Homo sapiens: one gene and its partners. The protein of the gene in region 3 purifies or fractionates together with the protein of the main gene of each other region. This does not show direct contact. Each region holds a gene or a part of one and is shown on either strand. Other genes may lie near its edges.

The links. The genes of interacting proteins can lie anywhere in the genome.
Region 1: the proteins of EMID1 (region 3) and CRTAP purify together in Homo sapiens (affinity purification with mass spectrometry; 2 studies listed by BioGRID and IntAct, with this or other methods). This does not show direct contact.
Region 2: the proteins of EMID1 (region 3) and CALU purify together in Homo sapiens (affinity purification with mass spectrometry; one large-scale study listed by BioGRID and IntAct). This does not show direct contact.
Region 4: the proteins of EMID1 (region 3) and PPP6R2 purify together in Homo sapiens (affinity purification with mass spectrometry; one large-scale study listed by BioGRID and IntAct). This does not show direct contact.

Annotation. Positions count from the first base shown.
Region 1 is NC_000003.12:33,127,514-33,131,013, reverse strand, and holds part of CRTAP (cartilage-associated protein isoform 1 precursor), read right to left. Parts: intron 1,076-3,500; coding exon 947-1,075; intron 1-946. UniProt on the Homo sapiens protein: Necessary for efficient 3-hydroxylation of fibrillar collagen prolyl residues.
Region 2 is NC_000007.14:128,766,859-128,770,358, forward strand, and holds part of CALU (calumenin isoform a precursor), read left to right. Parts: intron 1-597; coding exon 598-797; intron 798-2,204; coding exon 2,205-2,309; 3' UTR 2,310-3,500. UniProt on the Homo sapiens protein: Involved in regulation of vitamin K-dependent carboxylation of multiple N-terminal glutamate residues. Seems to inhibit gamma-carboxylase GGCX. Binds 7 calcium ions with a low affinity.
Region 3 is NC_000022.11:29,229,896-29,233,395, reverse strand, and holds part of EMID1 (EMI domain-containing protein 1 isoform 1 precursor), read right to left. Parts: intron 2,377-3,500; coding exon 2,256-2,376; intron 2,115-2,255; exon of another isoform or gene 2,080-2,114; coding exon of another isoform or gene 2,031-2,079; intron 1,939-2,030; coding exon of another isoform or gene 1,888-1,938; intron 1,804-1,887; coding exon 1,714-1,803; intron 1,141-1,713; coding exon 994-1,140; intron 830-993; exon of another isoform or gene 633-829; intron 18-632; coding exon 1-17.
Region 4 is NC_000022.11:50,430,327-50,433,826, reverse strand, and holds part of PPP6R2 (serine/threonine-protein phosphatase 6 regulatory subunit 2), read right to left. Parts: intron 2,655-3,500; coding exon 2,445-2,654; intron 1,563-2,444; coding exon 1,498-1,562; intron 1-1,497. UniProt on the Homo sapiens protein: Regulatory subunit of protein phosphatase 6 (PP6). May function as a scaffolding PP6 subunit. Involved in the PP6-mediated dephosphorylation of NFKBIE opposing its degradation in response to TNF-alpha.

The DNA of each region.
Region 1 (3,500 bases), on a different chromosome or scaffold from region 3:
CAAGTGGCACTTGGCAAAGTCAGGTACAGGGAGAGGAGGAAAAGCCGAAACACGCAGGCTCTGAAGTCTAACCCTGAACTTCCTTCTCTCCCACGTTTGCTTCCCATTGTCCACTAGAACGTTCTGATTGAGAAACTCCCATTTCAGATCAAGGGAGGACCAACTAGAATGAAACTAACAGGACGGGCGCAGTGGCTCACACCTGTAATCCCAGCACTTTGGGAGGCTGAAGTGGGTGGATCACTTGAGGTCAGGAGTTCAAGACTAGCCTGGCCAAGATAGTGAAACCACATATCTACTAAAATTACAAAAAATTAGCTAGGCGTGGTGGCACACACCTGTAATCCCAGCTACTCAGGAGGCTGAGGAAGGGGAATCACTTGAACCTGGGAGGCGGAGGTTGCAGTAAGTCAAGATCACACCACTGCACTCCAGCCTGGGCAACAGAGCAAGACTCTGTCTCAAAAAAAAAAAAAAAAAAAAAAAAAGAAAAGAAAAGAAAGAAAGAAAAAAGAAAAGAAAATAAACTCTAACAGTCTGAAAAGTAAAGCTAGTGATAAGGAGGAAGGGAAATAATGATAACAAAAACAAACACACAGTTTGCTATGTGCCAGTGTGGGAATACCCCAGACATTTCACATCTATTAACTCATTTACTCCTCAGGACAATCCTATGAGGTTAGTACTACAATCTCTATTCACAATGAGGAAACTAAAGCACAGAGAAGCTAGTAAGTGATAAGGCTGAAATCGAACCCAGGCACTGTGGTTACAGGCTCTGCCCTGAATCACTAAGCCATGCTGCCTTTTTGTGCAAAGCATAGCACCAGGGTTGTCAGTGGACCTTGATGAACTCTCAACAACCGTAGCTAAGAGTTATTACCTCTATTTTACAGTCTTAGAAGGACTAAGTGCCTCACCCAAGATGTCACAGAAGATTACTTACACTTATAATAGGCAAACTGCAAGTAATGATACATGGTAGCCACAAATTTCTCAACCGGATAGCCTCCTATAACTGGGGTGAGGTTCTCTTCACACTGTATTTTGCATTCCAGAACTTCTACATAATGATCTGAAACAAAACATATAAATTTTCAGAGCAGTGGATCCATTACTTTCTTAATATGCTACTGCCTCCTGCCCAAATGAAAAAGTTAAAAGAAAAATATTTACAGGCCGGGCGCGGTGGCTCACGCCTGTAATCCCAGCACTTCGGGAGGCTGAGGCGGGCGAATCACAAGGTCAGGAGGATCGAGACCATCCTGGTTAACACAGTGAAACCCTGTCTCACTAAAAATACAAAAAATTAGCTGGGCGTCGTGGTGGGCGCCTGTGGTCCCAGCTACTCAGGAGGCTGAGGCAGAAGAATGGCGTGAACCCGGAAGGTGGAGCTTGCAGTGAGCCGAGATCGCGCCACTGCACTCCAGCCTGGGCAACAGAGCAAGACTCCGTCTCCAAAAAAAAAAAAAAAAAAAGAAAAAGAAAAATATTTTCAACACCTACAAGGAGCTGAAAATCTTTAATATACAAAGTTGTTTCAAATCAATATGAAAAAGATGAACATCCACTATATAAATGGCCAAATGATATTAATAGAAATTATTAAAATGTCTAAAAAACATTGAGAGACACTACACCTCTTTTGTAATTAGGAAATACAATTACCCCCAAAATAATTTAAACTACCAAATTGCAAAAGTTTTACAAATTCATACTGTAGTATTAAGAAGAGAACAGTGAAACTTACACTCTCATATTCTGTTGATGGAAGCAAAACAGGAACAAACTTTTTGGAGAACAATTTGGCAAAATTTATCAAAGGTTAAAATACACATATTTTCCAACCCAGCTGTCTACTTCTAGGAAATTTTCTTTAGACACAGGCATACATAAACACTGTTTATAACAACAAACAAACAAACTTGTAAGTACCTAAATGCCAATCAATAGGATGAGGATTAATAAATTACAGTATATAAAAATAACAGAATCTACACAGCCTTTGAAAGAGAGTAAGGTGAACCTAAATATAGTCAAAGACTACAATTCCCATGCAGCTAGGTTGGGGCCATATGACTAGTCGTGGCCAATGACATGTTGAGAGTAACAATTAAGGAATGCTACTTCCAGGCCTAATCCCTAAAATCTCCCACATGATCCTTGGCTCCCTCCCTTTTCTCCCTTTATGCAGCTAGAAGCAAAAGACTCCAGAAGGGTTGCACACATTTCATAAGACTGTGGAGGAACAGGCACTTTCAAACATTGCTGGTAGGAAGTACAAAATGATACCTTAAAACACTAAAATTAATTTACAGAAACATTTACTCTTTGAACTATTATTTCCACTTTGGTTGACTCTGAAAACACGCCTCCATACTTACTACCATCACCAACAAAAAAGCCTTACATACTTACTACCACCAACAACAAAAAATTAACATCAACAATAAGGGTGCAAACAAACATCATACATATCTTGACGTGATATCCTGAGGAGGACATTTATATAGCGGTCCAGCCAAAAATACACAACCTGAATGTAACTGTGAAGACACATAATAGAAACCCAAATTGAGGAATGTTGACAAAGTAATTAGCCTATATTCTTAAAAAATATCATTGGCATAAAAAGACAAAGAAGGCCAAAGGATTGTTCCAGATTAAAGAATTCTAAAGGAAGATGACAAATAAATAGGAAGCATGATTCTGAACTGGAACCTGTACCAGGAAAAAAAAAGGTGCTAGAAAGAACATTATTGTGACAATTAACAAAAAGAGAATATGAACTACAGATTGAATACAAGCATTGTATCTAGTATATTAAGTTTCCTGAATTTAATTACTATGGATATTTAGATAATATTATTGTTCTTAGGAAATAAACTGAAGTATAATGGGGTAAAGAGTAATAATGCATGTGCAACATACTTCCAAATAGTTCTGAAATAAAAATAATTATACAGAGCTGGGTGCGGTGGCTCAAGCCTATAATCCCAGCACTTTGGGAGGGCAAGGCGGGCGGATCACTTGGGGTCAGGAGTTTGAAACCAGCCTGGCCAACACAGCAAAACGCTGTCTCTACTAAAAATACAAAACATTAGCCAGGTGTGGTGGCGCCTGCCAGTAGTCCCAGCTACTCAGGAGGCTGAGGCAGGAGAATTGCTTCAACCCGGCAGACAGAGGTTGCAGTGAGCCAAGATCGCACCACTGCACTCCAGCCTGGGCGACAGAGTGAGACTCAGTCTCAAAAATAAAATATAATAGGCCGGGTGCGGTGGCTCACGCCTGTACTCCTAGCACTTTGGGAGGCCGAGGTGGGTGGATCACCTGAGGTCAGGAGTTCGAGACCAGCCTGGCCAACGTGGTGAAACCCCGTCTCTACTAAAAATATAAAAATTAGCCAGACGTGTTGGTGCATGCCTGTAATCCCAGCTACTCGGGAGGCTGAGGCAGGAGGATTGCCTGAACCTAAGGGGCAGAGGTTGCAGTGAGCCGAG
Region 2 (3,500 bases), on a different chromosome or scaffold from region 3:
AAGGGCAGTTGTGAAAGGGGGGAGATGGGAAAAAAGCCTTGATGGCCAGAGGTACATTCTTATGAAGATCAATTTTTGGAAAAATCTATATGTGGAACTGAGTATCTGGAATTTGATTCTCTCTTGACTGACCTTTCTCAGTGTACTCCTTGACAGTGTTCCTGTTTCCCCAGGGGCGTGCTTGTCCCAACTGAAGGCCACTGGTATAATGGACTCTTTGTAGTAATTGGCTACACCTTTCTAAAACAAGTGGTCCCGTTTAATTAGCTACCTTAGGGTGAAATGAAATGTAGGGAACGAGTCTAAGTCTTTCTTGATGGTAGCTCTCTCCTCTTATTTCTGCATTTATTAAGGTATAAGAACTCTTTGCTCTCATGTGACTTAAAATCAGCAGCTGGAAATATTCTTGTTGCAAGATAAGTGATTAAGCCTCAGGAAAATACCTTGCTTTCTAAGGTCTGTCTGGCCTAAAATACCCTTGTAGCTGCTGTTGGGTTCCAAACAAATGGATGAGGAAAAAGGGTTAGGCCAGATTAGCATGAGGCAGTTTTGGGGAAAAGACAAACCCTTCTTTTGTATGTATGTCTGTGTACCCAGGTGACATGTACAGCCATGATGGGAATACTGATGAGCCAGAATGGGTAAAGACAGAGCGAGAGCAGTTTGTTGAGTTTCGGGATAAGAACCGTGATGGGAAGATGGACAAGGAAGAGACCAAAGACTGGATCCTTCCCTCAGACTATGATCATGCAGAGGCAGAAGCCAGGCACCTGGTCTATGAATCAGACCAAAACAAGGTAAGTCTGGCGAGGCCCACACGCTCTATCCTTGATTGAAGTATGCTTCTAGGGGATCACCTGAACAGTTTCTGTTAAGGTGCATAGAGCATTTAAGGTCTTAATTAGTCTAAGTCAGCCAAGTATCTGAATCTGGCGATTAAAACCTTTCAGGGCAGCACTAGCTATCTGATCTCATTTTAGAAATCCTTTTGCCCAGTGCTGATAGCATTGTAGGAAATTTGGCTTCAGAAAAGAGCCTTTGTGTGTAGCCTGTGCCCAGCATGCATCATCAGGTATTTTTAGATCCCCAGGAATTTTTTTTTTTCTTTGTTACTTCATTTGTTCCTTTACCTATTACAGGCCCATTCTGTCTACTCAAAGCTGGTTGTTTCCTTCTTAAATCAAATAGGCTTTTTTAAATTGGGTCCTTTGTATGGGCTATAAATCAGCTTTTCTCTGGAGCCTGTTCAAATTGTCCTTGATCAATTAATTATCTGAGGTATTTTGTTAAAAGTATTGTTGTCCCTAAGCCCAGTCACCTGCTTCAGAGATTACTCCTGCCCTGCTTGGAGTAAGCTGAAAATCGGTCTAAAGATGGAGATTTTCAGTGTTCTGAGTATATTTTTGTCTAAGCTAATCTTCAATTTCAAATTCAGTTTTTTATTTTAGAGCCTTTTTAAGTGTTGATCTGCTTTAAGTTCTTGCTCAAAGTCACTTTAGTAGCCAGGTGTTGTGTCCTGAGATGTATGAGAAAAGGAAATGCATGTAGTCATCCCTATCTAGGAGATGTTCCATATTTTCCTCTAAAAGGAGAGTTTTCTCCTCATGAAACAAACCTTTATCTCTAGCATTGAGTTGTTGTGTTATATTCTTTCCACCCTTCCACTTTTAACTTTCTTGATAAAAGAAATGTTTAATTGGCCTGGCACGATGGCTCACGCCTGTAATCCCAGCACTTTGGGAGGCCAAGGCAGGCGGATCACCTGAGATTGGGTGTTCAAGACCAGCCTGACAAACATGGAGAAACCCCATCTCTACTAAAAATACAAAATTACCTGGGCGTGGTGGCGCATGCCTGTAATCCCAGCTACTCGGGAGGCTGAGGCAGAAAAATCACTTAAATCACTTTAACACGGGAGGCGGAGGTTGCGGTGAGCTGAGATCGCGCCATTGCACTCCAGCCTGGGCAACAAGAGCGAAACTCCGTCTCAAAAAAAAAAAAAAAAAAAAACAAGGAATGTGTAATTGCTGTTTTCTTCCCTCTTCGTATGTATGTAGGGGGAATGAGGGCTGAGTAGTTCACACTTAATTTAGTAGAAATGAGAATCTTAACTTCTGATTAACCCCAATTCTTCTATAACAGTGTTTCTGAATTTTTAATGGGAAATATGTTCTTCTTCAATTCATTGCTATCTCTACTTTCAGGATGGCAAGCTTACCAAGGAGGAGATCGTTGACAAGTATGACTTATTTGTTGGCAGCCAGGCCACAGATTTTGGGGAGGCCTTAGTACGGCATGATGAGTTCTGAGCTACGGAGGAACCCTCATTTCCTCAAAAGTAATTTATTTTTACAGCTTCTGGTTTCACATGAAATTGTTTGCGCTACTGAGACTGTTACTACAAACTTTTTAAGACATGAAAAGGCGTAATGAAAACCATCCCGTCCCCATTCCTCCTCCTCTCTGAGGGACTGGAGGGAAGCCGTGCTTCTGAGGAACAACTCTAATTAGTACACTTGTGTTTGTAGATTTACACTTTGTATTATGTATTAACATGGCGTGTTTATTTTTGTATTTTTCTCTGGTTGGGAGTATGATATGAAGGATCAAGATCCTCAACTCACACATGTAGACAAACATTAGCTCTTTACTCTTTCTCAACCCCTTTTATGATTTTAATAATTCTCACTTAACTAATTTTGTAAGCCTGAGATCAATAAGAAATGTTCAGGAGAGAGGAAAGAAAAAAAATATATGCTCCACAATTTATATTTAGAGAGAGAACACTTAGTCTTGCCTGTCAAAAAGTCCAACATTTCATAGGTAGTAGGGGCCACATATTACATTCAGTTGCTATAGGTCCAGCAACTGAACCTGCCATTACCTGGGCAAGGAAAGATCCCTTTGCTCTAGGAAAGCTTGGCCCAAATTGATTTTCTTCTTTTTCCCCCTGTAGGACTGACTGTTGGCTAATTTTGTCAAGCACAGCTGTGGTGGGAAGAGTTAGGGCCAGTGTCTTGAAAATCAATCAAGTAGTGAATGTGATCTCTTTGCAGAGCTATAGATAGAAACAGCTGGAAAACTAAAGGAAAAATACAAGTGTTTTCGGGGCATACATTTTTTTTCTGGGTGTGCATCTGTTGAAATGCTCAAGACTTAATTATTTGCCTTTTGAAATCACTGTAAATGCCCCCATCCGGTTCCTCTTCTTCCCAGGTGTGCCAAGGAATTAATCTTGGTTTCACTACAATTAAAATTCACTCCTTTCCAATCATGTCATTGAAAGTGCCTTTAACGAAAGAAATGGTCACTGAATGGGAATTCTCTTAAGAAACCCTGAGATTAAAAAAAGACTATTTGGATAACTTATAGGAAAGCCTAGAACCTCCCAGTAGAGTGGGGATTTTTTTCTTCTTCCCTTTCTCTTTTGGACAATAGTTAAATTAGCAGTATTAGTTATGAGTTTGGTTGCAGTGTTCTTATCTTGTGGGCTGATTTCC
Region 3 (3,500 bases):
GGACAGCAATGGGTCTCCTGGGTGAGCAAAGATGATGAGTGAGTAGAGCTGGGTAGAGTGGGGTGGTTAGTCTTCACCTGCCACCTCTGCCAAGACAGCTTGGACTGCCCTATGGGGCAGCCTGCAGCATGGCTGGTACCACCTGGGCACCTGCTCCAGGGTGAGGAGTGTGGAGAGTGTTGGTCCCGCAAGACCAGGAGGCAGGGAGATGTGGGTTCTAACCCCACTGCAATCCAGCTGGTGACATCCAGCAACACTTTCTACTTTTCAGAGCCTGTACTGTCACCTGTCAAATGGGAATGACAATAAAAGATACCATTTATCCACCACCTACTGTGTGCCAGGCTTCTGTACATGGATGTTACGCAGCTCTGGGAGGCTGGCACTGTCATTGTCCCCATCGTATGGATAGTGAGATGGAATGAATGCTGGGATGGCAGAATGAATGAATGGTGTGCTGGGTTGTGCACCAAAAACACAGTGGAGAAGAGGCTGAAACCTGGCGCTCCACACTCTGACCCCTGGCAGCCCATGGGCAGGTCAGGCTGGGCTGCCAAAGGGAAGAAGCCAAGGACGCACGTCAGGGCCTGGAGGAGGGGCCGGGCCTGTGGCCTTGGGAGTTCAGGACTCACTTCCTGCCGCCGGGTCTTTTGCGTCCCAGTGTTCCGAGAACTGGATTCCAGCCAGTTCCAAGGCTTGGGAGGGCCTGATGCCCGGTGGCTCTAAGCACAGGTTCTGGAGGCAGCCTGGGTTTGAAGCCGTTCCCCTACGCCCAGGCTGTGGGACCCTGGCAAGCCACCTTCCCTCTCTGGTCCTCAGTGTTCCTCACCTGTAACCACAGGAGGACAACGGCGCCTGCTGGAGGACTGGGTCACATGTGGCCTATCGTGAGCAGGGCTGGCACACAGAAGGCACGTGGCAGATGGTAGCGGGCACTGTGCTGATGGCTACTCCACCCCCACCTCCACCTGCTGGGATCCCAGGGGGACTCACCATGCTGGGAGATCCGGGCATGGGGTGGCCCAACAGGGGCTGGGGGCCCAGGGGGGCCAGGAGGCCCTGGTGGCCCAGGAGGTCCCCTCTCTCCAGGGGTGCCCACAGCTCCAGCCCGGCCAGGGCTCCCTGGGGGGCCCTGTGGACCTGCAATGGAATCACACGGATTTGTGGGTATACAGGAGGCAAGGAGGCCCAGGGTGGCCTTGAGCGACAGGACAAGGCAGCCTGGAGCAGTGGGCATGAGAGAGGGCCCCGGAGTCCACAGGCCTAGGCTGCCTGGTAGTCTAACAGGGGGATGAGCACAGCACCTAGTTCTCCACCTCGTCCAGGCTGAGTCTTCCTTCCTTGGGGCTCCCAAACCCCCAAAACCCCTCATAGAAACCCTGGTCACATGGGGCAAGCATTGCTGCTTCTCCTCTGCCCAGCCCTGCTCCCAGCAGCATGGAAGCTCCAGAAGGGCAGGGACATGTCTGACCCCACCCAGTGCCCAGCTCAGAGCCTGATAAGTGTAGGTGCCCAGGGAATGTGGGTCAGTGAACATAAGAGAGGACTTCATGGAGCCCAGGCGTGGGCAGGGCACTCCGTGGTGGGGTGCTGAGTGAAGAGGCAAGTAGATGAAAGGGCCCAGGTCATCCTGGCCATGTCAGGAGCAGGGAAGGGCCCACCTGGTGGAGGGGATGGCCAGAGGAGCTGTGGGGCAGCATTGCGGGCACTCACCTGGTGGGCCTCTCATCCCCATTGGGCCCCGACTGCCGGCATCTCCCTTGGGGCCGGTGGGCCCGGGAAGCCCCCAAGCACCGACTTGGTCTGGGGGGTAAAGCATATCAGACTGGCAGCTCCACATCTGCTCTTGACCCCCACCCTGGCCCCAGCCCCCCAACCAGCATCTACCATTTCGGGGAAGCAGCGGGACCCTCACACTCTCTATGGCTCCTGGCAGCCCTGGGGTGGGGGGGGTAGGCAGAGGTCAGTGTCCCTGCTGGGCCTGGAGGAGGGAGGCTCATCCAGAATCCCCACTCCCAGCTCCCCCCGACCTCCAGGCAGGGTCTGCTGGGGCTGCTTGGTCTCCAGGGACTGCAGCATTCAGGAGTCCCAGGAGACGGTCCTCTTAGGCGGGTCTAAGAAACGGGAAATGGGAAGACTGAGGCCCACTAGAGGGTTAAGTTGGGAGTCAGCGACAGGGTGGGGACCAGAATCCCACTTCCCCGATTCCCAACCCACTGCTCATTCCCACAGGGGAGTCTGAGTCTGACACTCACCCTGGAGGCCTCCATCTCCGGGGCTGCCCTGGGCAGGAGGGGGACCCCAGAGCGGGGCAGGGTCCTCAGGGGTAGCTGGTGTTGGAGGTACTGGCTGCTCTATGACAGTCAGCATGGTCATCTGAAGAGGAAGACAGGGACGGGGTGGGTACCAGGGTCTCACTAGGACCCCTCCCTATTTTTTTTGAGATGGAGTTTTGCTCTGTTGCCCAGGCTAGAATGCAGTAGTACTATGACGGCTCATGCAGCCTCAACCACCCGGGCTTAAGCGATCCTTCTGCCTCAGCCTTCCAAGTAGCTGGGACCACAGGGATGCACCACCACACATGGCAAATTTAAAAAAAAATTATTTGTAGAGACGAGGTCTCGCTATGTTGCCCAGGCTGGTCTTGAACTCCTGGGCTCAAGCAATCATCTTGCCTCAGCCTCCCAAAGTGTTGGGATTACAGGCATGAGCCAGGGTCTCACCACGGACAGGCCAGCCAAGGGGCCTGGTGTGGGAGGCAGGAGGCACATGGCCAGCAGGGCCCAGCTTGGAGTGGAGCCCCAGGCTCGCAGGGGCACCGAACTTCATCAGAAGTGACAGTGTTTTTCAAAGCACACAATTCATAACACGCATTATGGAAAAGTCACTGACACCATCATTGCCATCAAAGTTGAGCTTTGTGACTGTCGCGGTGCTTGCTGGGCCATGTGCTTTTTCTCTATGGTTATCCAAATAAGAAGCTTGTCTTGATTTCTTAAAGCACCACAGGGTATGGCTGGAAGAGTTTCACTTAGTTTGTTTTTTTGTTTTTTTTTTTTCCAAGATGGAGAGCCTTGCTCTGTTGCCCAGGCTGGAGTGTAGTGGCACGATCTCGGCTCACTGCAACCTCCGCCTCCCGGGTTCAAGTGATTCTCCTGCCTCAGCCTCCAGAGTAACTGGGATTACAGTCATGCGCCACCACACCTAGCTAATTTTTGTATTTTTAGTAGAGATGGGGTTTGACCACATTGGCCAGGCTGGTCTCAAACTCCTGACCTGAAGTGATCTGCTTATCTCAGCCTCCCAAAGTGTTGGGATTACAGGCGTGAGCCACCACTCCCGGCCTTTCACTAAATTTGGAAGGAAGTTTGGAAGAGTCTGACATGAAATAGAAACCTGGAGGTGTACACAAAGTCCACTTTTGGGCCCATGGTGAGGAAGACTCTGGGAAGCTGGAAGTGTCCCCTCAGCTGCTGAGGACCAACGAAAGGCCAGATGAC
Region 4 (3,500 bases), about 21 Mb from region 3:
CCAGGGCAAATGCCCGGCCCCTGCCCAGCATCCATGCCCCCGGCCCTCCTCCAGGTTCACCTCCAGGGCAAATGCCTGGCCCCTGCCCAGCGTCCGCGCCCCCGGCCCTCCTCCAGGTTCACCTCCAGAGCAAATGCCCGGCCCCTGCCCAGCATCCATGCCCCCGGCCCTCCTCCAGGTTCACCTCCAGAGCAAATGCCCGGCCCCTGCCCAGCATCCATGCCCCCGGCCCTCCTCCAGGTTCACCTCCAGAGCAAATGCCCGGCCCCTGCCCAGCGTCCGCGCCCCCAGCCCTCCTCCAGGTTCACCTCCAGAGCAAATGCCCGGCCCCTGCCCAGCGTCCGCACCCCCAGCCCTCCTCCAGGTTCACCTCCAGGGCAAGTGCCCGGCCCCTGCCCAGCATCCATGCCCCCAGCCCTCCTCCAGGTTCACCTCCAGAGCAAATGCCCGGCCCCTGCCCAGCGTCCGCGCCCCCAGCCCTCCTCCAGGTTCACCTCCAGGGCAAGTGCCCGGCCCCTGCCCAGCATCCATGCCCCCGGCCCTCCTCCAGGTTCACCTCCAGAGCAAATGCCCGGCCCCTGCCCAGCGTCCGCGCCCCCTGCCCTCCTCCAGGTTCACCTCCAGAGCAAATGCCCGGCCCCTGCCCAGTGTCCGCGCCCCCTGCCCTCCTCCAGGACACTTCTGTTTGAGTAGCACCTGCCACGTGCAGCAGGCTCACCCCAACCTCACTACCAAAAGTGCCACTGAGACAGATGAGGAAACAGACACTGCTCTCACTCCATTTTACAGACAGGGAAATGGAGGCAGAAAGGCCGTGGCGTGGCCTAAGTCCCGCTGGTGGCAGCAGTGGCGCAGGAGGTGAGCCCATGCTGCCAGCTACCAAGCTCAGGCTCAGCACCCCAAGGGGAGGGTTGGGCGGGACCTCCATGCTGTACAGCCCAGCTCGGCCTCTGCTTCCCCACAGCTGCACTCAGACCCCTCCCAGCTCCCTGGAGTCCCTCCTCATATCGCCCAGAGCCAGACAGTTCCCAGCAGGACAGCAAACGGGTGGGGATGGCTCTGGGCCCACGACAATAAGCGGGACATGTGTCCTGACCAGAGGGAGCACCCATTAAGCAGAAGATGGAAAGACCAAAATAACGCGTCCCTGTGTGCGAGTGCTGACGGAGGGCCCGAGTTCCTGGGGAAGATCAGGAACGGACAGCGGACCCACAAGAGGGCAAAGCCAGGCTGGGCGGGGGCCAGAGCAGGTGCCTGGTGGGGACGGGACCGCTTCCTGTCGGCTCCCTGTGTCCCCTCCCCAAGTAGCATTTGCAGCTGTCCGCCCAGTAGAAGGGCCCCTTGCACAGCAGCCCCAGAACGTGGAGCCACGTCGCACACCCTACACTCCACCCGATCCTGCAGTCCTGCACGCAGCGTCACCAGGGCTTGGGTGAGGTGCGTCTCTGCATCCCTGACTGGCCAGGCTGGGTCCCTCCACGTCCGAGCGGCTCTTACTGCGTGTGGTCGTTGGCTTCCCAGGCCTCCAGGATCCTCTGCACCAGGCAGCACTTCTGGAACAGCTGGGGGGCGGGGCAGGGGGACAGCGTGAGTCAGGGTCTGAAGGCGGCACGCACCCCTCCACCCATCCCTGGACTGGGCAGGGCTGGCTGGCGGCCACGTCTGTGTGGACTTTGCAGGCCCTGACTGCTGCGCACGCACAGCCCCAGCCTCCGCGGTCCTCACCAAACACCAGAGGAGGGTGCGGTTCGGGGCTCATACTGCTGAGCGCCCTAAAGATGAAGCCCGAGAAAAGGACCCTCTCCCTTCTCCTCCAACTCCTGGAATTGCCCCCTGACCCCTGTCTTCCCCTGGGCCTTCTCCCCGTCTCTCCATTGCCCTCCACTTTGGCCACTCTCCTGCCCTCTTTCTCTGTGTCCGGAAGAACGACTAGGGCTGTCTGCCCTCAGCACTTTCTCTCACCTCCAGGCCCTGACACAGATCACTTCTTGTACCTGAGATGTTTTTCCTGGGCTCCACCTCACACTACGATATACCTGTGGCCTTGCTATCCGGGTGACAGTCCCTGGTTGGCCTGCATGTCCCTCAGCATCCCCTCCCCACCGTGTGGCTCCCATCACTGACACTGCTGGCTCCCTGGGCATTTATTCCCTGGGCCTCCAGCTGGAGGCCAGACTGAACTCATCTCATCCAGTGCTAACCCTTGCCAGGCCTGCACGTGGAAGGCACCAGTACCCCTGCTGAAGGCAGGTAGGAATGAGATCTGCAAGACCCACTCAAGCCCCACTGTCTACGAGCGTCTGACCAGACACCTGGGGACCCTTTTCAAAGCCCTGCCCCCGTGTCAGCTGCACAGTGAGGTCCGGCACACGTCAGCGCTGACATGGACACGGTCTGAGTGGGGCGCAGTTGGCGCTGATAAGATGGATGCTTCTTGGACTCACGTGGGTCACCATTGTGTTGTCAGGGAGGCTGGCGGCCGGCTGGGGAGTCTCCAGGCTCCGGTTCCCGTTCTCATGCGGAGGCTCCACCCTGCTCTCGGATCCGCTGGCTTCTGTCCTCTCCTCACGGGCAGCGTGGGAGAGAATAGCGGCTATGCATAGTTCCACTTGGAAGTGCAAAAAGTTATTCCAGGTGTACTTAAAGAACAAGTCCTGGGTAAACAGAGGACAGAAGACAGTTCTTAGATCGGTTTTCTCCTGCCGGCTACACCACAAAGCTGAGGGAAACCCTTCCTAAAGGTGGCGTCCTAACTCCTCACAAGTCCAGTCTCTGGGTAGCTAGGAAGGAGTTTTAAGCGTTTTCCTGAGGGTCATCTCTCTATTACGGAGCTTCTTCAAATAGCCACTGAGCACTTCTGCCTCCTGCCTGTGGGTGTCTGTTGGTCTCTGCTTCAATCTGAATCATCACCTTTCTACTTTCTGCGGGTTTATTCTTTTTTTTTTTTTTTTTTGAGACGGAGTCTTGCTTTGTCTCCCAGGCTAGAGTGCAGTGGCACGATCTCGGCTCACTGCAACCCCTGCCTCCTGGGTTCAAGTGATTCTCCTGCCTCAGCCTCCCTGGTAGCTGGGATTACAGGTGCCCACCACCATGCCCAGCTAATTTTTGTATTTTTAGTAGAGACGGGATTTTGCCATGTTGGTCAGGCTGGTCTTGAACTTCCAACCTCAGGTGATCTGCCCGCCTCCGCCTCCCAAAGTGCTGGGATGACAGGCATAAGTCACCAGGCCTGGCTTCTTTTGTCCTTCAGTTGGAAGCTCAACTCATTAATTGCAGCCTTTCTTTCCAGTCTGTCTTTAAAGGCTACATTTCCCTGTATACAATCAACTTTAACTACATTCTACACATTTTGCTAAGTAGTATTTTTATGATTCTTCAGTTCTAAGTATGTGAGAAGTTCCTTTATGATTCTGTCTTTCTCATGAATTATTGGAAGTGTGTTAGACTCTCAAGCACATGAGGATTCCACCCAGGATGGGCAGGCGTGTGCATATCGTCCA